Linked DNA regions of Homo sapiens. The protein of the gene in region 2 interacts with the protein of the main gene of each other region in a pairwise test. Each region holds a gene or a part of one and is shown on either strand. Other genes may lie near its edges.

What was found. The genes of interacting proteins can lie anywhere in the genome.
Region 1: the proteins of ZSCAN23 (region 2) and CEP70 interact in binary tests that used the Homo sapiens proteins (3 or more experiments, as listed by UniProt).
Region 3: the proteins of ZSCAN23 (region 2) and SCAND1 interact in binary tests that used the Homo sapiens proteins (3 or more experiments, as listed by UniProt).

What each region holds. Positions count from the first base shown.
Region 1 is NC_000003.12:138,584,239-138,591,264, forward strand, and holds part of CEP70 (centrosomal protein of 70 kDa), read right to left. Parts: intron 1-7,026.
Region 2 is NC_000006.12:28,440,466-28,448,426, forward strand, and holds the start of ZSCAN23 (zinc finger and SCAN domain-containing protein 23), read right to left. Parts: upstream 3,027-7,961; 5' UTR 2,934-3,026; exon of another isoform or gene 1-2,933. UniProt on the Homo sapiens protein: May be involved in transcriptional regulation.
Region 3 is NC_000020.11:35,953,102-35,959,158, forward strand, and holds SCAND1 (SCAN domain-containing protein 1), read right to left. Parts: upstream 1,402-6,057; 5' UTR 1,347-1,401; exon of another isoform or gene 1,239-1,346; 5' UTR 1,184-1,238; coding exon 644-1,183; 3' UTR 523-643; downstream 1-522. Other genes in the region: CNBD2 (cyclic nucleotide-binding domain-containing protein 2), read left to right, coding at 1,479-1,652, 4,620-4,673. UniProt on the Homo sapiens protein: May regulate transcriptional activity.

The sequences.
Region 1 (7,026 bases), on a different chromosome or scaffold from region 2:
ACAGACCAATAACAACTAACAACATTGAAGCTATAATAAAAAGTCCTCCAGCAAAGAAAAGCCTCGGACTCCATGGCTTCACTGCTGAATTCTACCAAACATTTAAAGAATTAACACCAACCCTACTCAAACTATTCTGAAGAATGGAAGAGGAGGGAATACATCCAAACTCATTCTATGAGGCCAGTATTACCCTGATACCAAAACCAGACAAAGACATATCAAAAAAAAAAAAAAAAAAGAGAGAGAGAGAGAAAAACCTACAGGCCAATATCCCTGATTAATATTGATGCAAAAATCTTCAACAAAATACTAGCAAACCAAATTCAACAACACATTAAAAAGATCATTCATCATCAACAAGTGGGATTTATCCCAGGGATGAAAGGATGATTCAACATATGCAAATCAATCAATGTGATACATCATTATCAACAGACTGAAAGACAAAAACCATATGATCGTTTCAACTGATACTGAAAAAGCACTTGATAAAATTCAACATTCCTTCATGATTTAAAAAAAAAACCCTAAAAAAACTAGGTATAAAAGGAACATACCTCCACATAATAAAAGCCATGTATGACAGACCCACAGGCAGTATCACACTGAATCGGGAAAAACTGAAAGCCTTTCCTCTAAGATCTAGAACAGAACAAGGATAAAAAATTGACAAACCTTTAGCCAGACTATGAAGGAAGAAAGGAAAAAAGATTCAAATAAAATCAGAGATGAAAAAGGACTGGAATTGCTGTAGTTAGGACTAGAATTGCTCTAGCTAGAGATGAAAAAGGACTGGAATTGCTCTAGCTAGCAGTTAGACATGAGAAAGGAAAAAAAGGCCATCAAAATTTGAAATCAAATTATCCTTGTTTGCAGGTGACATGATCTTATATTTGGAAAAACCTGAAGACTCCACCAAAAAGCTATTTGAACTGGTAAACAAATTCAGTAAAGCTGCAAGACACAAAATCAGCTTAGAAAAATCAGTAGCATTTCTATAAACCAACAAGGACAATCTGAAAAAGAAATCAAAACAGTAATCCCATTTACAATAGCCACAAAGAAAATTAAACACCTAGGAATTAACTGAACCAATGAAGTAAAACATCTCTACAATGAAAATTATAAAATACTGATGACAGAAATTGAAGAGGCCACAAAAAAATGAAAAGATATTCCATGTTCATAGATTGAAACAATCAATATTGTTAAAATATCTATATTACTCAAAGCAATCTACAGATTCAATGCAAATGCCTAGCAAAATACCAATGACATTCTTCACAGAAATAGACAAAATAATCCTAAAATTTAAAGCACAAAAGACCCAGAATAGCCAAAGCTATCCTGAGCAAAAAGAATAAAACTGGAGGAATCACATTAACTGACTTCAAATTATATTGCAGAGCTATATTAACTAAAACAGCATACTACTGCCACCAAAACAGACACATAGACCAATGGAACAGAACAGAAAACCCAGAAACAAATCCACATACTGACAGTGAACTCATTATTGACAAAGGTGCCAAGAACATACATTGGGGAAAGAAAAGTCTCTTCAATGAATGGTGCTGGGATATCCATATGCAGAAGAATGGAACTAGACCCCTATCTCTCACCATATACAAAAATCAAATAAAAATGAATCAAGACTTAAATCTAAGCCCTCAAACTATGAAAGTACTACAAAAAAATTGGGGAAACTCTCCAGGACATTGGATTGGGCAAAGATTTCTTGAGTAATATACCACAAGCACAGGCAACCAAAGCAAAAATAGACAGGTGGGGTCACATTGAGTTAAAAAGCTTCTGCACGGCAAAGGAAACAACAAAGTGAAGAGACAACCCACAGAATGGGAGAAAATATTTGTAAACTACCCATCTGACGAGGGTTAATAGCCAGGATGTATAAGGATCTGAAACAACTTTTTTTTTTTGAGTCTCACTCTGTCGCCCAGGCTGGAGTGCAGTGGCACAATCTCGGCTCACTGCAACCTCTGCCTCCCAGGTTCAAGCGATTCTCCTGCCTCAGCCTCCTGAGTAGCTGGGATTATAGGCACATGCCACCACACTGGCCAATTTTTTATATTTTTGGTAGGAAATCAGCATATTAAAGAGATATCTGCACTCTCATGTTTACTGCAGCATTATTCACAAAAGCCAAGATTTGGAAGCAACCCAAGTGTCCACTGACAGACAAATGGATAAAGAAAATCTGGTACATATACATAATGGAGTACTACTCAGCCATAAAAAAAGAATGAGCTCCTGTCATTTGCAACAACATGGATGGAACTGGAAGTCATTATTTTAAGTGAAATAAGCCAGGCACAGAAAGACAAACATCACATGTTCTCATTTATTTGTGGGATCCAAAAATCAAAACAATTGAACTCATGGAGACACAGAGTAGAAGGATGGTTACCAAAGGCTGGGAAGAGTAACAGGTGGGCTGAAAGGAAGAGGGGATGGTCAATGGGTACAAAAAAATAGAAAAAAAGAATAAGATCTAATATTTGCTAGCACAATGGGTTGACTATATTCAATAATAATATAATTGCACACTTTTAAGTAACTAAAAGAGAATAATTGGATTGTTTCTAACACAAAGGATAAATGCTTAAGATGGTGGCTACCTCATTTACCCTGATATGATTATTATATATTATATGGTGTATCAAAATATCCCATGTAACCCATAAACATACACATCTGTGCACCCATGAAATTAAAAAAATTTTAAATTGTAAAAGTTCATATTAAAAAAAATCTCTACAGACAAGAAAAATATACTAGAAAGACGTGCTCACAAAACAGATAGGAACTATAACCTCTATATTAAAACAAACTAAAATACATGTAAAACTCTGTAAGACATAAACAACATAATTAGAAATAAAACTTGGAAATGAGCTGATAGAATCTAGAAATTAGTAACTTTTAAAAACTAATTATTTCTGAAATGAAGATTAAAGAAGGAAAATGAATGAGTAAAGACTACAGACAATGCCTTAAGAGAAATAGAGATTAAAAGGAAAACAATTTTAAAAAATTAAAAAGAAATGAAGAAGAAATATGAAAATGACAAAGATAGGCAAAGAAGCTCAAACATACACATAATAGTGGTAATTGAAAAAGAAAACTAAAACAACAGAACCAATTAAAAAAACTATAATTCAGGAAACTTTCCTGATTTTAAAATTCATACAGAGCTGCAAAAGATCTATAAAAGACAAAACAACTTTGAAAAAGAACAGGCTGGCCATGGTGGCTCACACCTGTAATCCCAGCACTCTGGGAGGCTGAGGCAGGAGGACAGCTTGAGGCCCAGGAATTCAAGACCAGACTGGGCAACATAGCAAGACCCCATCTCTACAAAAAAAAGATTAGCCAGGCATTGTGGCATGAACCTGTAGTCCTCGCTACTTAGGTGGCTGAGGTGGGAAGACAACTTGAACCCAGGAGTTTAATCAGTGAGCTATGATTGTGCCACTGCACTCTAGGCTGGGTGACAAAGCAAGACCCTATCTCTAAATTAATAAATGAATGAATGAAAAAGAAGAACAAAGTTGAAGGACTAATACTATATCATTTCAAGGTTTATAAAGCTATAGTAATCAAGACAATATAGCATTGATATCAAGATAGACAAACAGATTAATGAAACTAAATAGATTCCAGAAACAGACTCATACATATATGGACAACTAATTTTCACCAAAGATACGAAGGTAATTTAGCAGGAAAAACGATAGTTTTTTTTTTTCAATAAATGATGCTAGAACAATGGGATGCCCATGTACAAAAAAAAGAGAAAGAAACAGGACTTTCAGCCATATCTCACACCATATACAAAAAAATTAAAATGAATGACATAAATCTAAAACTTAAAATCACAACATGTCTAGAAAAACACAGAAAAACTGTATGGCCTTGAGTTAGGCAAACATGTCTATGATATGACACCAAAAGCATGATACAATTCAAGAACAAATGGGGCTTCATAAAAATAATGTCTGCTCTTTAAAATATAACATTCTGAGAATGAAAAGAGAAACCACATACTCAGAGAAAATAGTCAGGAATCAGAAAAGGTTCATATCCAGAATATATAGGGAACTCTCAAAACTTAGTAAGGAAGTTAACATCAACAAGAAGTAAACAACTGAACTTAAAAATGGTCAAAAAATTTCAATAGACATTTCACAAAAGAAGACATACAGATGGCAGCTAGGCACACAAAAAGATGCTAAACATTGTTAGTCAGGAGGGAAATGCAAATTAAAACACACGATGTGACACCACTACACATATTAGAATGGCTAAGAATGACTAGACCAAGTGTTTTCGAGGATGTGAGGGAACTAGAACTCTCATATACTGCCGACGGGAATTTAAACTAGTACAACCACTTTGTAAATCACTTTGGCTATTTCTTAAAAGGTTAATAAGCACTTACCATAAGACCCAGTCATGCCATTCCTAGAATTTACCCAAGAGAAATGAAAGCATTATGTCCACACAAAGACTGTACACAAATGTTCGTAAGAGCTTTATCTATAATAGCCAGAAACTGGAAACAACTCAAATGTCCAGCAGCAGGTGAACAGACACACAAACTGTGGTATACCCATTGGATGGAATACCCCTCAGCAATAAAAAAGAATATGTGCAACATGGATAAATGTCAAAATAATTACGCTGAAAGCCAGCCATAAAATAGTACATACTATAACATTCCATTTATATAAAACTCTAGAAAATGAAAACCAACTGTGGTGATAGAAAGCAGATCAGTGGTTGCTGAGAGAATTGGAGGCTAGACACAGAGACTACTAACGAGAACAAGGGAATTTGGGGGGATGATGGATATATTGACAATCCTGATTGGGGTGGTTTCATAGGTGTATATGTAAGTCAAAACTTATACTACATATGTGCAGCTTATTGTATATTAAATATATCAATAAAGCTGTTTTAAAAATAAAGTTTTCCTGAAATTTAAAAAAAGATTTGAAACTACAAATGGAAAGAAAATATGAAGTACCTGAGAATACTGACCCAAAACAACCAACACAGTGATATATTCTAATATTATTAGCAGACTTTAATGAAAAAGAAAAAATTTGGCTGGGCGTAGTGGCTCATGCCTGTAATCTCAGCACTTTGGAAGCCTGAGGCAGGTGGATCACTTGAGCCTGGGTTCATGACCAGCCTGGGCAACTTGGCAAAACCCTGTCTCTCAAGAAAAAAAAAAAAAAAAATTAGCTGGGTGTGGCAGCATACACCTGTAGTCCTAGCTACTCAGGAGGCTGAGGTGGGAGGACTGCTTGAACCCAGGAGGTGGAGGCTGCAGTGAGCCAAGATCATACCACTGCACTACAGCCAGGGTGACAGAGTAAGACTGTATCTCAAAAAGAAAAAAAGAAAACAAATTATTTGGTTATCTACAAGAAAAAAACCCACATGACTTATAAGAAGAAGAAAAATTAGATAATAATCTGACTTTGATACCAATACTTTATTCCAGAAGAAAAAGGAGTAATGTATTTAAGAAATTCACGGAAAAGAAGTGTGAGCCAAAGACTTTATATCTGCAAAATTGACTTTGAAGTATAAAAAGAATAAACTTTGATCAATATATAAGAACTCAGACAATATTACTTCCCGAGGAATCTAACAATGTATTAGCTTCAGGTAGCCAAAATGCCTAGAGAGACCTCAGCATAAACACTGGTGGTAAACATTAAATATATTAATAGAACTAATAGGCTAAGAGGGAAAAAGCAGAACATGAAATGGCTATATACTCTGACAATGCAGATAGAGCATAACTGTTAAAACAGAGAGAGAAGAAAAAATGAGAAGAACATAAGCCAAAAAAAAAAGGTTTAATGTTTTCAGTAATCATATTGATGGTGATTTCAGAAATATAGTTCTGATACTGTCATATGTATAATACAGAATAATGAGTAAATATGGAATATTCTATTTTCTCCTATATTCTTGAGAATCATGATTCTCAGTATGGAAAAAAGGAGTTACAGTTGTGATAGAGAAGTTGTTAAGTAAAAGCTCTGTAATCTCAATCTGAAGACTGGAAGTAGAATACATTAGGTATCTTTTAACATGTGTGTCTATAGACAGATACAGGTATCCTAGCTCTGTCTACTGAAATGCCTGAAACAGTGACTAACTCAGGATCTTTAGCATTCAGACTGTAACTGAAATATTATTTCCCTCTAAATGAAACCCGGGCATTTTAAAGAAATGGCTGATTTCATATCTGCGATAGGAATTGTTCAATATATTATATAACAAGGAAGCTATCAAAAACTAGGAGGCCAGGCTCACAGTGCAGCTTGGCCAACATGGTGATACCCCGTTTCTACTAAAAATACTAAAAAAAAAAAAAAAATAGCCGATCCTGGTGGTGTGTGCCTATAATCCCAGCTACTTAGGAGGCTGAGGCAGGAGAATCACTTGAACCCAGGAGACAGAGGTTGCAGACAGCTGAGATCGTGCCACTGCACTCCAGCCTGGACAACAGAATGAGACTCTATCTCATAAATAAATAATAAAAAAAAAACAGGGAAGTGATTACTACAAAACTATAAAACCCAGAAGAATGGTGACTAAATGGGAACACAGGAGTTTTGACTGGGATAGGGTAATGGAGGGGATCTGGCATACCTGAATGGTATGGTCCTGTAATAATTTATTAAGCTATACATTTGGTATGTGATTTATAACAAAAATTTCATTTTACGCTAAAAAGATTTTGTTAAATAACAAAAAATAGAAAAGTAAAGGAAATGCTAACCTAACCAAAATAAAGCTGGTACGGGTTGAACGTTCCTAATATGAATATTTGAAATCCAAAATGCTCCAAAATCCAAAACTTTTTGAGCACCAACTTGACACCACAAGTAGAAAATTCCACACCTGACCTTATGTGACAGGTCACAGTCACAACTTCATTTCATGCATAAAACTATTAAAAATGTATAAAATTAGCTT
Region 2 (7,961 bases):
ATGGCTTGAAACATGATCTGCTGAATTGGTTCTAGGGTAAGAAAGTTTTGTGGTAGAAATATCAAATAGCTAAATCCAGAATATGTACTCTCACATTACTCAATAAACGTACCATGGATTCAAAGGATGAAACAGCCACTTATGCTTTCTTGTTTTTTCAATCTTTTAGGGTCCGAAAATGTCTTTTTCTTATTTACCACCTGTGCCGCTTGGTTTCAAGTCAAAGTTTTTCTATTCAAAGGCAATGCAGCTGAAGCTTAGAGCTCTGCCCAGAAAAATTCATTTCTGGGATGTGGTGTTTCAAATCTTTATACAGTTTCCCAAATACAAATTTCCCTATTTTCTCTGTATACTCTGGGTTCATTTTTGCTTTCCTTCACCTGATTTTGCTTTTATCTGGTGGCCTTAATACCCAGATCCTTGCACCAGCATACCTGAGTTCTTCTTTGAACCTGGTGTCTCCAAAAGGCTTCCCCAGTTTTTTGTAATACTGCCCTCCTCGTCACAAACATAGAGTTCCTAATCTTCCATTCAGGATCACAACCTCAATGTATATGCCAGGTATATAATTAGCATAATAAGTCTTACCTTAAAAAATACATCTGCATTTTAAAGTTGGTTCCTCCTAGAGCCTCAGCAAGCTGAACACCCCCAAATCTACCATCATCCTCATGGAAGGATGCTGTTAACCAAGGACATGCACGTAGGTGAAGACTAAGCAGCATGTAATACAAATGTGCCTTTATCATCATATATCCCACGACCCTCACCTCCGCTGACACCATCTATGGCTCCTCACTAATTGGATGAATTCCCAAACTCTCAAGCACAGTTTAAAACCAGTCAGACCTTTAGCTTCTGTTGTCTGGCTCCACTCTTGGTTTCCTCTATTCCACAAGCAAAAACTCTCAGCTCCAGTCAGGTTTTTCTTCTCATTATTCTAATCAGGCGTTTCTCATCCCTGCGCCATGAGCTTGGTCTTGCCTTCTTCCCTTATTCGAACCTTACCCAATCTCTGCAGCTTGATTCAAATCTCACATCCTCTCTGAAGTCTTCTTTACCCATTTCAGCTCACCCTCTTCCAACTGCCCACTCATATGTCATGTACTGTATGAGTCCCACCTTTCACCCTCAGTCACAATTTATCTTGTACCATTACTTCTCTTCAGAACCTTTTTTAAATCCAAAAAGTAGAGAGGAATATAGAATTCTTTCACCAAGTTCTATTACCCTGAAATAAACAGTCTTAAATACTGGAATGTGTCCTTTTCTATGCATTTGCAATCGTATATACACATGTATACACATGTGCACACATAGAGTTGATATAAGCCCATATATTTTATTTACCTTAGACAAGCAGAAGGTAGTATGAGATAGCAGAGAACACAGGCAGATCTGGTTGTTAATTTTTTTTTTTTTTTTTTTGAGACAGAGTCTTGCTTTTGTTGCCCAGGCGGGAGTGCAGTGGTGCGATCTCGGCTCACTTGCAACCTCTGCCTCCCAGGTTCAAGCAATCCTCCTGCCTCAGCTTCCGGAGTAGCTGGGATTACAGGGACCCACCACCACTCCTGGCTCATTTTTGCATTTTTAGTAGGATGGAGTTTCACCATATGGGTCAGGCTGGTCTCGAACTCCCGACCTCACGTGATCTGCCCACCTCGGCCTCCCAAAGTGCTGGGATTACAGGCATGAACCATAGTGCCAGGCCATCTGTGAATTTTAACGCAGTGATCTTGGGCAAGTTAGTTGATTTTTCTAAGCCTCAAGCTCATATATGAAATGAGGTCAACAACTGCCTTGCCAACTTGTTGAGAATATTAAATGAGATAATGCATACAAAGTGTTTTTGCACAAAACCTGGCATATAAACATGCAAATTAATCTTTTAATAAGATAATGTACAATTTTGGTACAATGGTAGTTTAATTAATAGTTGCTACTTTCCCTTAGGGCCAAGACTGTAATCTTTTTCTATTGCTCAAAGAACAAGATGAGTGGGTGAAAACATGCACACAAACCAATAAAACGGCTGTTTCATCAGGTTTGCAGAAACACTGAAAGATATACGTCTTCAGATATATTCTCTCCAATCAAATCCTAACTAGAAGCCCAGGACTACTGAGGTACAAAAGAAGGACGGGATTCAAATGAGCGAAGTAACTTCCCGGGTTATAGCTGTAAAGCTAATATAGGAACAGAGTGGAGTTAGCATAGCAAAGGTTTTAAGAAAATGGAGTCTGGAGCCAAATTGCCTGTATTTGAATCCTGCCTACACCCCTTACTCGCTCTACGACCTTGGGCAAGTTACTAACTTCATTTTCTTCTTGTATGTTAATTTTAAAAAGGGGCGGGACAGAGAGGTGGGGTGTAGTCTACATAATAATAGTGTCTATCTCATAGAGTTATGAGAAGCAGATAATATTTGTAAAGTGCTTAGAACAGTGCTGGGCTGGCACATAGTAGATGCTATTTATTCTTTTAAAAAATTCGATAGCAGCAAGAGCCTTTATACTATGTGAGTTAGACTAAGAAAGGCTGTGGCATAGTTTAAAACTATCCCTGCTCATTCTTTAAAATAAGTCCACAGTAGAGAATAAGACATCGGAAAATACAAACATTTCTTCATATCCGAATCTATTTGAATCCTAAGATGCAGATACGGAGAGTTCAGAGTGCCATCAGTACAGGGCAGAGAGGTTGAAGAGCTCAGGAACAGACATAGGGTGGGGGAAAGGGGTAGGGGCAACGACGCTGACTTTTGGTTAACAAAGCCCTTCCAGGCTGCGGAGCAACCTCCTCTGCCCTTCACCTGCCCGGCCCATCTCTGGCCAAGAAGACCCTGCCGCCAAATCCCCACACCCAGTCCAGGTCGCAGTGCACAGACTGGCCCTTCCGAAGCCCCTCAGCGGTAGCCCGACTCCGAAGCTCACCGAGGCATCCGTGAGAGGAGATGCCACCTAGCGCAGATCACATCTGCTCTGAATCCTTGACAACCGCAGCCCAAAGAATGATAAACTACAAAGGCCGGAAATGCGTCACCGCGGCCCGCTCTCCGCGAAACAGCGGTTCCGGCTGTGTTCCTTCTAGGAAGGCCGGAGGTTTCCACACCTCTGTGGTCGTCACTCTGAATCCCGTCTGTAGTCTTAAGTGAGATACTAGGTGACACATTGTCTTCCACGCGGCAATATAATAACGGCCAACATAGTGTTTTAACACGTATTAATTCATTACCCCGCATAACAACCCTGTGAGTTAGGTACAATTATCTCCATTTAACAGGTGAGGAAACTGAAGCACATTTCTACATTTATTAGTTGCCATTTCCTGCAAAGAATACCCTTTCTTTTCCCTGCCGTCTCATTTTATCACGATGAACTCATGGATTCCTTTACAAATAATTACTGTTATTATTATGTTGATGCTCAAATTATTTAAAATTTGGTCAGTTGGAGCCCTTTCACACTGCTCCCTCTCTTTTCTTTTTTTGACAAAGTCTCCAGGCTGGAGTGCAGTGGATGCGATCTCAGCTCACTGCAACCTCCGCATTCCGGGTTCAAGTGATCCTCCTGTCTCGGCCTCCTGAGTATCTGGGATTACAAGAACACACCACTATGCCTTAGTGAGGCTGGTCTTGAACTCCTGTCCCTCAAGTGATCCGCTCCCTCGGCCTCCGAAAGGGCTGGGATTACAGAAGTGAGCCACCGCACCCGGCCACAAACAGGTTTCTATGTCCTTTGATAAGTTCCCAACAGTTTTTGTGCACTTCACTTTCTCACAAAAGATATTTCAGTCCCATTTTATACTATTCCTACCCTAAACCTAGAATCACCATTGCTTCATGAAGCTACAGTACATCAGTGAAAAATGGTATATAGAAACCAAGATCTGGATTTCGGGCAATGAATAACCTCATTGCTACTGTGTCTGGCATTGGTTCCTGCCAGTCTACTGTGTCCAGAATTGGCTCCTTCCAGTGGGTTCCTGCTCTGACTTCAAGAATGAAGCCGCGGATACTCACGGTGAGCATTACAGTTCTTAAAGATGGTGTGTCTGGACTTTGTTCCTTCTGCTGTTCAGATGCGTCCAGAGTTTCTTCCTTCCGGTGGGTTCGTGGTCTCACTTGACTTCAGGAGTGAGGTCGTAAACCTTTGCAGTGAGTGTTACAACTCCTAAGGGTGGCGTGCCTGCAGTTGCTTCTTCCTTCTGGTGGGTTCGTGGTCTCGCTGACTTAAGGACTGAAGCTGCAGACCATCGTAGTGAGCATTACAATGCTTAAAAGTAGTGCAGACCCAAAAACTGAAAAGTGGTAAGGTTTTATTGTGAAAAGGGAAAGAACAAAGATCCCACAGCACAAAAATCAATGCTAGCAGGTTGTCACTGCTGACTGGGGCGGGGGTGGTAGCCAGCTTTTATTCCCTTATTCAGCCCCGCCCACATCCTGCTGATTGGCCCATTTTACAGAGTGCTGATTGGTCCATCTTTACAGAGTGCCGCTTGGTGTGTTTACAAACCTTTAGCTAGACACAGAGTGCTGATTGGTGCATTTTTACAGAGTGCTGATTGGTGCATTTACAAATCTTCAGCTAGACACAGAGTGCTGATTGGTGCATTTACAAATCTTCAGCTAGACACAGTGCTGATTGGTGTGTTTACAATCCTTTAGCTAGACAGAAAAGTTCTCCATGTCCCCACCCTAACCGGAAGCCCAGCCAGCTTCACCTCTCACTACTAGGACATATTATTGCCTCTAGGCTCCTTCAGTGTACAAGAGCTAGAATATATGAATATGTTATATATATAATATATTATATATAATACGTATTATATATTATCCTATATATCATATATTATATATTATATATAATACATATTACATATTATCCTATATATTATATATTATATACGGAGGATTTTATATTATATATATGTGTATTATATATAACATATATAATATATTATATACTATATATTATGTACATAATATATATTATATACAGATATAAAATCCTCCATATACATATATAATATATATATGGAGGATTTTATAAGATACTTTCTGTTCAAAAACAACTCCACAGAATTCTTTTACATTTTTCACCGTTGCACATTTGTTTTTTTTCTTTTCACCCACAGTGAAAACTCTGGCTCCCAACAGCATAAATAAATTCACTCAAACAAAATAGTTTCTTATAAACAAAATAGTTTCAAGATTATAATACCAATACATCACTAGCAATAACATATCTACTATGTAGAATTCAAAATTTCTTTGCTTGTTTTGTTTTTGAATTATATCCCATTAAGGGAGTATAGCTGTATAAATACCTTATTTGAATTAATTATTTTCTCTGTGGTTATATTTTAAACGATATATGGTTAGGAGCATTTGTTTCTGTTTATATTCCATTTCAGGGTTTGCTTTCATCCCTTTTTAATTTTTTTGACAATTCAAAACATTTACTTAGTTCAAAATCCACACTATATAAAAAGGTATGTTTAGAGGAGTTCTGCTTCCATCCCCAGTCCCTTTACCACATATACTCATACCCAATTTTCATTATTTATTTATCCTCTCCTTCCTTCCTTCTTCATTCCCTCCTCCCTTCCCTACTTTTTCTCTTTTTTCTTGCAAAAATGAGTATTTATCTTCTGTACCCCATAAGTTATGTTATATACATTCTTTCATGCCTTGCTTTATCATCTAACAGAAAAGCCTAGAAATGTCCTGTTTTTGAAGTAGTCCTCTTTTTTCACACCTGCATAATAACTCATTCTGTGGATGTACCATAATTTTTTTAACCAGTTTCTTGGGGGTGGGTATTTGGATTACTTCCAATATTTTGCTTTAACAAATAATGCTGCAATGAACAATAAGAGAGAGACTTTTGTAGAGGTTGTGTTATTTTGTACTCTCAACAGCAAAGTGTGAGAGTGCCTGTCTTCACACAGCCTCATGATCTGTATGTTTTCAGGCTTTTACATATTGCCAGTATGATAGGTCCTTTGATATTTCTTAAGGAATCACAAACGCAATGCTGAAATCCCTGCTAGAAATGGATTCACAGTGCCAAATTTCAGCAAGGATTATGGAACAATGGGAATTTTCACATATTTTTCATGAGAGTGTACATTGGTGAAACCATTTTGGGGAAACTCTGGCATATCTACTAAAGTTGAATGTATGCGTATTCTGTGACCCAGCCACCAGAAACGCATATGTGCTTGCATCTAAAGACATGTCTTAGAAGCATTTTTTGGTGATTGCTTTAAACTGGAAACAACCCTAATGTCCATTAACAGTAGGATGGGTTTTAAAAAAAAGTTTATTCAGACAACTGAATACTATGTAACAACGAAAATGAATGAACTACAGCTACAAACCACGTTGATAAATTTCACAAACATAATAGTAAAAGGAGCCAGAATAGTGAGTAAAAGAAGACAAAAAACACGACATTTGACCTCTCGTCCCTGAGAGGCGGGTGGTTGTTAGTTCAGGGGGTTATGGGAGGGCTCTGGCATCCGGGATGGAGGCGCGTCGCTTTCTGTGGCTGGCGCTGGATCCACCCTGGGTCTCCAGCCACGGCTGCAGAGAGGGTAGCGCGGTTTCTTAGGCCAGAGTGGAGTGGGACAGGAGGTGCCCAGAGACGACTGTGGTGGCTTGAGACATGGAAGCGCTGCAGCCTTTGAGCCCAGTATCCAGCATTGCAGCCGCCGCGGCGGTCTAAGAGCTCAAACCCTTTCAGGCGCGCGCAGGAGGAGGAGCGGCGGGGGCGGCGGAACAAGACGACCCTCACTTAACGTGGCCGCTGTCGCCGTGGGCATGCTGGGGGCGTCCTACGCTGCCGTTCCCCTTTATCGGCTCTATTGCCAGACTACTGGACTTGGAGGATCAGCAGTTTCAGGTCATGCCTCAGACCAGATTGAAAACATGGTGCCTGTTAAGGATCGAATCATTAAAATTAACTTTGATGCAGATGTGCATGCAAGTCTTCAGTGGAACTTTAGACTTCAGCAAACAGAAATATATGTGGTGCCAGGAGACACTGCACTGGGGTTTTACAGAGCTAAGAATCCTGCTGACAAACCACTAATTGGAATTTCTACATACAATGTTGTTCCATTTGAAGCTGGACAGTATTTCAATAAAATACAGTGCTTCTGTTTTGAAGAACAAAGGCTTAATCCCCAAGAGGAAGTAGATATGCCAGTGTTTTTCTACATTGATCCTGAATTTGCTAAAGACCCAAGAATGATTAATGTTGATCTTATCACTCTTTCTTACACTTTTTTTGAAGCAAAGGAAGGGCACAATTTGCCAGTTCCAGGATATAACTGAAGTCAGCAACTAAGTCTTCCTTCAAAGTTGTGATTTTTGGGAAAATCATGTATCCTATCTTCTCAAAGGAGAAATATTGTACAATAATATGAAGACTTATATTTTAAATAATTATTTTTTCTCAACTAATTTATTTCACTTAAAATTGAGAGAACAAGTTCAGCTTTTATCATAACAAACCCACATGCCTAGCTAGAATATATGAGTGACTATTCAATACCATACTGAAGAGTTTGATAGCATTAAAATAAGCCGCTTTGTTTTTTAAATATGCAGGCATGGGTTCAGCTTAATTCTATAATTCCCTTCCAGATTATTAACTCTTCATACTTATAGCAAAGAATCTGACAATGTTTTTCAAAAATGAATGCTCAGGGTTATTTGTTTCAAGTCATAGGCCAGAACTTCTGACCATGTTTATTATGTCTAAAAGAGTTGGTTGCTATTTTCCTTCATTATAAACAGTCAGTATTTTAAAAGCTCAAAGTAGAAGAGGAGTCACCAAGCCCTAACAGCTTGTCCAAAGATTTAAATTCTTATTTCAAATTTGATTTGTCCTTTAAGATTTAGGGCTATTTTATATTCAGAGTTCTGAATAATTACTTTGAAATTGTAGTAT
Region 3 (6,057 bases), on a different chromosome or scaffold from region 2:
TAAAATGAGTAGCTTCAGTAATGTAAATAATCCATTACTTCAACTAGTTCTGCTTTATTCCTACCACAGGCCTAAAATTTGGCAAGGAAGTTGAGCAAGCCTGGCGGCATAAGCCAGAGCTCACAAGAACTAGCCTATCTCTGTGAAGGTGTGCAGTAAACACTTCACATTAAAATGGCCCAGTAACTTGGACATTTTGGGAAGCCTGTACCCAAAGGGCAGGTGCAAGTTGGTGCCCATATTGGTATAGAGGTAGCCAGTTAAGTGAGCATTTAATAGAGCCAGCTATTTTGCGTGTAAGAAACCCAAGTGGGTCCTTGGGAGCCCAGGTGAAAAACTTCCCATGTGTGGTAGAGGGATAACCTAGGTTCAGTCAACATCTAAAGATCCCACTATAGCCAACGAAGGCCTTATTGTTACGGACTCCCAACTTCGTTTCGCCACCAGCCAGAAAGGCGGTAGGAAACAGGCTTGGTAAAATAAACCCAATAAGAACGAATGAAAGAGACACACCAGACCACAGGCGCTGCCAAAACTCATTTTTCATTAACACGGGGTGGGGTCCCAGGCTCAGGCCCCCGGGCCCGATCATGGCCCCAGTCCGCACAGAGCGCCCGGCCCTGGCCGCCCGCAGCTCCACCGCTCAGCCAGTGATGCGCACATCCGTGCGGCGGCGGATCCGCCGGGCCCGAGCCGCCTCGGGCAGGATGGCGAGCAGCTGCTCTTGCACCAGCATCTCCACGATCTGCTCCTTGGTGCGGATGTCAGGCCGCAGCCACTGGCGGGACAGCTCCCGCAGCTGCCGGAAAGCCTCCCGGGGACCCGCCGCATCCTGGTAGCGGAACTGCCGGAAACGCTGGCGGAACGTCTCGGGACCGAGTCTAGAGCCGGCGGGGCCTGGTGTGGAGCGCGCTTCAGCTTCGGCCTGAGGCGCTACGCTCACGGGTGCGGGCCCGAGAGGCAGCTCCAGGGCCGCGGAGGCCGCAGCTCGGGGCGTAGGGATGGCTTCAGGGACCGCGGCGTTGGGACTGGAAGGCTCAGGGGCAGGCGGTGAGGCCTCTGGCAGCGAGGAGCCCACACAGTTACGCTCAGGGGCTGAGCTCGAACCGGCTCCTTCCAGTTTCTCCGGTGGCACCGCCGCGGGACTCCCAGTGGCCGCCAAGATCGGCTCCGTAGCCGCCATAACTCCAGCTCCGGGCGTCACTCTTTGTCCGGTAGCTGTGTGCTCAGCACTGCGTCTGCGCGGGGGTGGGGTGAGCAGGGAGACGTTTCCGGTTAAAGGGCAGAGCTCGCGTCACCCTTGAGGGAGTCGGACTCGGGACCGGCCGAGAGTGTGCGGAGCTTACCTGCACCAGCGAAGCGCCTGCGGCAGCCGGAAGCGAAAGTCTCTGGCTTCTCTGCGTCCAGGTCGGCGCGCGAGCACCCGGAAGCCGCTTGCGGGCTCCCGGAAGCGGCGCCCTCTAGCGTTCTCGAGTCGCATGAGGCGGCTGCTGCCCTCGCGGTGCGGGAGGGCGAGCTGCGCGTGGCCTGGGCTCCTTCCGAATGGTGGCGCCTCTGAGCGCCAGTTCGAGGAGGAGTCGGAGGAGGAGCCTGAATGTTTGGAGATAGACTTCAAGTCCCGGACCTTATCCGTGCGCCGCTTCGGTTTGCAGGTGACCTTTGCGTGCGGGCGCCCCTTCTGATTGACCCTGATGAGCTGTAGCTCTGATGGCCCCTCCTTCGGGAATGATTAGGGTGACGGCTGGCCGGGGCTCGTTCGAGTGGCGCCCGGCCGGTGGTGACCCGAACAGGAGAGCGGGACGGCGACCATTCTCTCGGGAGGGGCCCATCTGGAGAAAGTCCTCTCGCTTGGTCAAACTAGGAGGGCGATAGCACCGGCCTTACTGCGACGATGACAAAGTACAACACACCGTCTGGCGCGAAGGAGATGCTCGAGAACCCTTTGCTGTTGTTATTTTTCGCGTGTCCTCCGAAACCAAGGGAAATGCGGCTCTGTGGGTTCTGTTAACGTCAGCATTTAATAAGTGAACTCTAAATGCATTGCCCCTTATGGTGGCCGCTGGCCTCCTGAGTTGACTCAGCTCTTGCAACGTAGCTAGTTGATAACCCTCGAAATATAGCGAATTGAGATGTGCTATATTGTAAAATACGGGACTTAGTACGAAAAAACTGATGTAAAAATTATCTCAATACTTTTTAATACTGATTACATGTTGGAATATAATGTTTTGCATATATTGGGTCAAATAAAAATGTTATTAATTTCACCTGTGTTTTTACTTTTTAAATGCAGCTTCTAAAAACATTTAAATTGCATGTGCAGTTTACATTATATTTCTGTTGAGCAGCCTTGGGTTAGAGTGTTGGAGTGAGGCTACCTTGGTGGAATCCCCTTTGACGATACCCAGCTCAGAGTTGTTAGGAGGATTAAATAAATTAAGCCGTTGGAGAGAAAGGGCTTTTAAGAAGTTTGCTCTTGTTTTTATTAGGTAAACTGCTTGCTATCTCTGAGCTACTGTTTTCTTATCAGTAAAATGTGGATGTAATAGAACTTACCTCTCAGAGGTAATTGAGAATTCAGTGAGATGATGTAGGTAAAAGCACGTGGCCCTGACAGCCCTCGGCCAGGTGGTTTTCTGTTTGGTAGCTGACTCACAAATAGTTTTGTTTTTGTTTTTGTTTTTGTTTTGAGACTGAGTCCTCCGCCTACCGGGTTCAAGCGATTCTCCTCCCTCCGCCTCCCGAGTAGCTGGGATTACAGGCGCCCACCACCACACCCGGCTAATATTTTATATTTTTGGTACAGATGGAGTTTCACCGTGTTGGCCAGACTGGTCTCGAACTCTTGACCTCAGGTGATCCACTCTCCTCAGCCTCCCAAAGTGCTGGCATTACAGGCGTGAGCCACCGTGCCGGGCCACAAATAGGTTTTATATCCTCATTTTACAGAAGGGGAAACTGAGGCCCTCAAAGGACAGGGGCCTCATATGAAAGGTTTTCTATGACCTTGCAGTCCTTTTGAGCCCGTGCAGGATGGAGGAGCAGGTTTAACAACCATTAACATGCCATTAGCCCTGATATAAAACTTACCCCTACCATAGGATGTTTCCTTTGGATGGGTAGAAGTGGACCCTCATGAAATCATTTCCATAGCCTGAAAACCTTGAAAGTCGTTGCAGTGGGCCTTTAATGTTTTTTAGTTGCTGACATGTAAAAATTGGGAGATTTCACATGCAAATCTGGATTTCTAATTTTTCTTGAAAAAACGGAAGAGCTGGCCACACTGGACCCAAATTCCTGCTGGTCAACAATCAGCTGACACTGAGTAGAGACGACTTCCTTTAGACAAGATACTCTGTCCCATTTGGTCTCAATCTCAACCATTCCCTATGGTTCTCTGAAATAGAATGTTGTTTGCATTTACTGTTGCTCTCAGGTTGTTGCTTTATTTAGAGTTGATATTTTTCTCTCTTTTCTTTTTAGAGGTGAGAAAGCAGGGTCTTAGTGTTTGTTATGCCTACTGGCTTCAAACCTTGACTTCTGTCTGGCCCCTCAGTAGTTGGGTTTGCTGCCCAGAGTGACCAACAGTGCTATTCCCTGTGTGGTAACAGGTACTCAGTTTCTAGGCCTAAGGGAGCACACTAACCCTTCTGTGGAGGCAAGAGGTGATAGAAGTCTTCACTGGGGAGGAGACTTCAAGCTGAGACTCAAGAACAAAATGGGTGGGGCTCAGGGACATTCCAGGTAGAAGGTACTGCCTGTACAAAGGCACATAGTGAGTAGGAGCAAAACTGTGGAAACTGCAGGCTATATGGGAAAGTGGTTGGGATCTGGAGAAGGGGTGAGAGATGAGGTTGGAACACTGGTGGGGGTTAAATCATAAATGTCCTAGAATTCCATGTTTAAAATTTAGTTATTATCTTCTTGTGAAAGGGAATGAACTTTTGTGGCACCTGGAATCATGAGATGTTATGTTAGATCTCTAGTCTATTTCTTCCATCCCTATTGAAATCGTGAATTATTAGAGATAGGAGGAGGGACCTGAGAGATCTATTAGAATCATTGAATGTCAGACTGGAAGGGCCCTTAGAAATGGAATTTAAAAATCCAGCCCTTTGTGGGCCGGTAAGCCTGCTTTAAAGTGATTCAGCAGTAAAAAAATAATGTGGAGGGAATAAATGAAACAAGATTGGCTCAGTAGTTGGCCGGGCGCGGTGGCTCATGCCTGTAATCCCAGCACTTTGGGAGGCATAGGCAGGCGGATCACCTGAGCTCAGGAGTTCAAGACCAGCCTGGGCAACATGATGAAACCCTGTCTCTACTAAAAATACAAAAAATTAGCTGGGCTCGGTGGCTCATGCCTGTAATCTCAGCACTTTAGAAGGCTTGAAAGATTGGCAGTATGTACACTCTACTTTGGTATATGCTTGAAAATGTCCATGATAAAAGTTAAAACATTCAGATTCCCAGAATCTGAAAAAAAACATATAATGCCTCTTCTTCGAAAAGGGATGCAGTTATCTACTTTCATGTAATTTACATATATCCTTGAACCCTCCCAGAAGTCCCAGATTAAGCTTAAAATATACATTTATATTTCATTCTTTTGAATTTTGCAGATTGAGAAACCAAGATGTCAGAAGATGAAGGATTGGTCCAAAATAAGAAAGCTAGTAAGTGGTTTCATGAGGACAGAAATCTTTTGACTTTTAGTCCAAACTCTTATCTTATTAGGCCTCTTTATCCCTAGATTGGGAGTTCACTTGGGAAGGGATCATAACTCATTCATCTCATATCACTTAGCTTCCAACACAAGGCCTGACTCCTAGGTAGCTTCAGTGTTGATTAAAGGAAAGAGGACAAATGTGGATTGCAGACCATCCCTGAGAAGGCAGAGCTCTCATATGAGTCCCAGACTCTTTCAGAGACCTCAGTGCCTTTTGATGGCACTTGGTTGTTGAGGGTTGTGGAAAAGAAGCTTGGATACTTATTTTCTTTTTTATCAGAGCCATCACACTGGAGAATACGTCTTTTAAAAAGCTTTTCATTGGCCAAGCATGGTGGCTCATGCCTGTAATCCCAGCACTTTGGGAGGCCGAGGCAGGCGGATCACGAGTTCAGGAGTTTGAGACCAGCCTGGCCAATATAGTGAAATCCCATATCTACTAAAAATACAAAAAATTAGCTGGGCATGGTGGCAGGTACCTGTAATCCGAGCTACTTGGGAGGCTGAGGCAGAAGAATCACTTGAACCCGGGAGGCAGAGGTTGCAGTGAGCTGAGATCGTGCCACTGCACTCCAGCCTGGGTGACAGTGTGAGACTTCATCTCAAAAAAATAAATAAGTTTTTTATTTGGAAATAATTATAGATTCATAGAAGGTTGCAAAAATAGTTCAGAGAGGTTTCATGTACCCTTCAGTCAGTTTTCCCTAATGGTAACATCTTGCATAACTATAGTACAATATCAAAACCAGGAAATTGACATTGGTACAATCCACAGACTTTATTCACATTTTCCCAGTTTTACATACATGCATTTGTGTGTGTGTGTGTGTGTGTAGGTCTATGCAATTTTATCGTGTGTGGATTAATGCAACTACTACCACAATATCTAGAACTGTCTGATCACCACAGAGATCCCTCGTGCTATCTCTTTATAATTGCATCCATTCATCTTCCCTTCCCCTATCCCTAACCACAGGCAACCACTAATCTATTCTCCATGTCTATAACTGTGTTATTTAAAAAATGTTACATACCTGGAATCATATAGTGTATAATCATTTGGGCTTGGCTCTTTCCACTTGGCACAATTCCCTGGAGATTCACCCAAGTGGTTGCTTGTATCAATAGTTTGTCCTTTTTATTGCTGAGTAGTAATCTATGGTATAGATGTACCATGGTATATTTAACCATCCATTGAAGGACATTTGGGTTGTCTCCACCTTTGAGCTGTTACAAATAGAACTGCTATGAGTTATTTTATGACATGGCTTTGGGTAATCACTTATCTTTCTGAGCCTGGAAATAGTAACTACCACACAGGATGGTTCTGA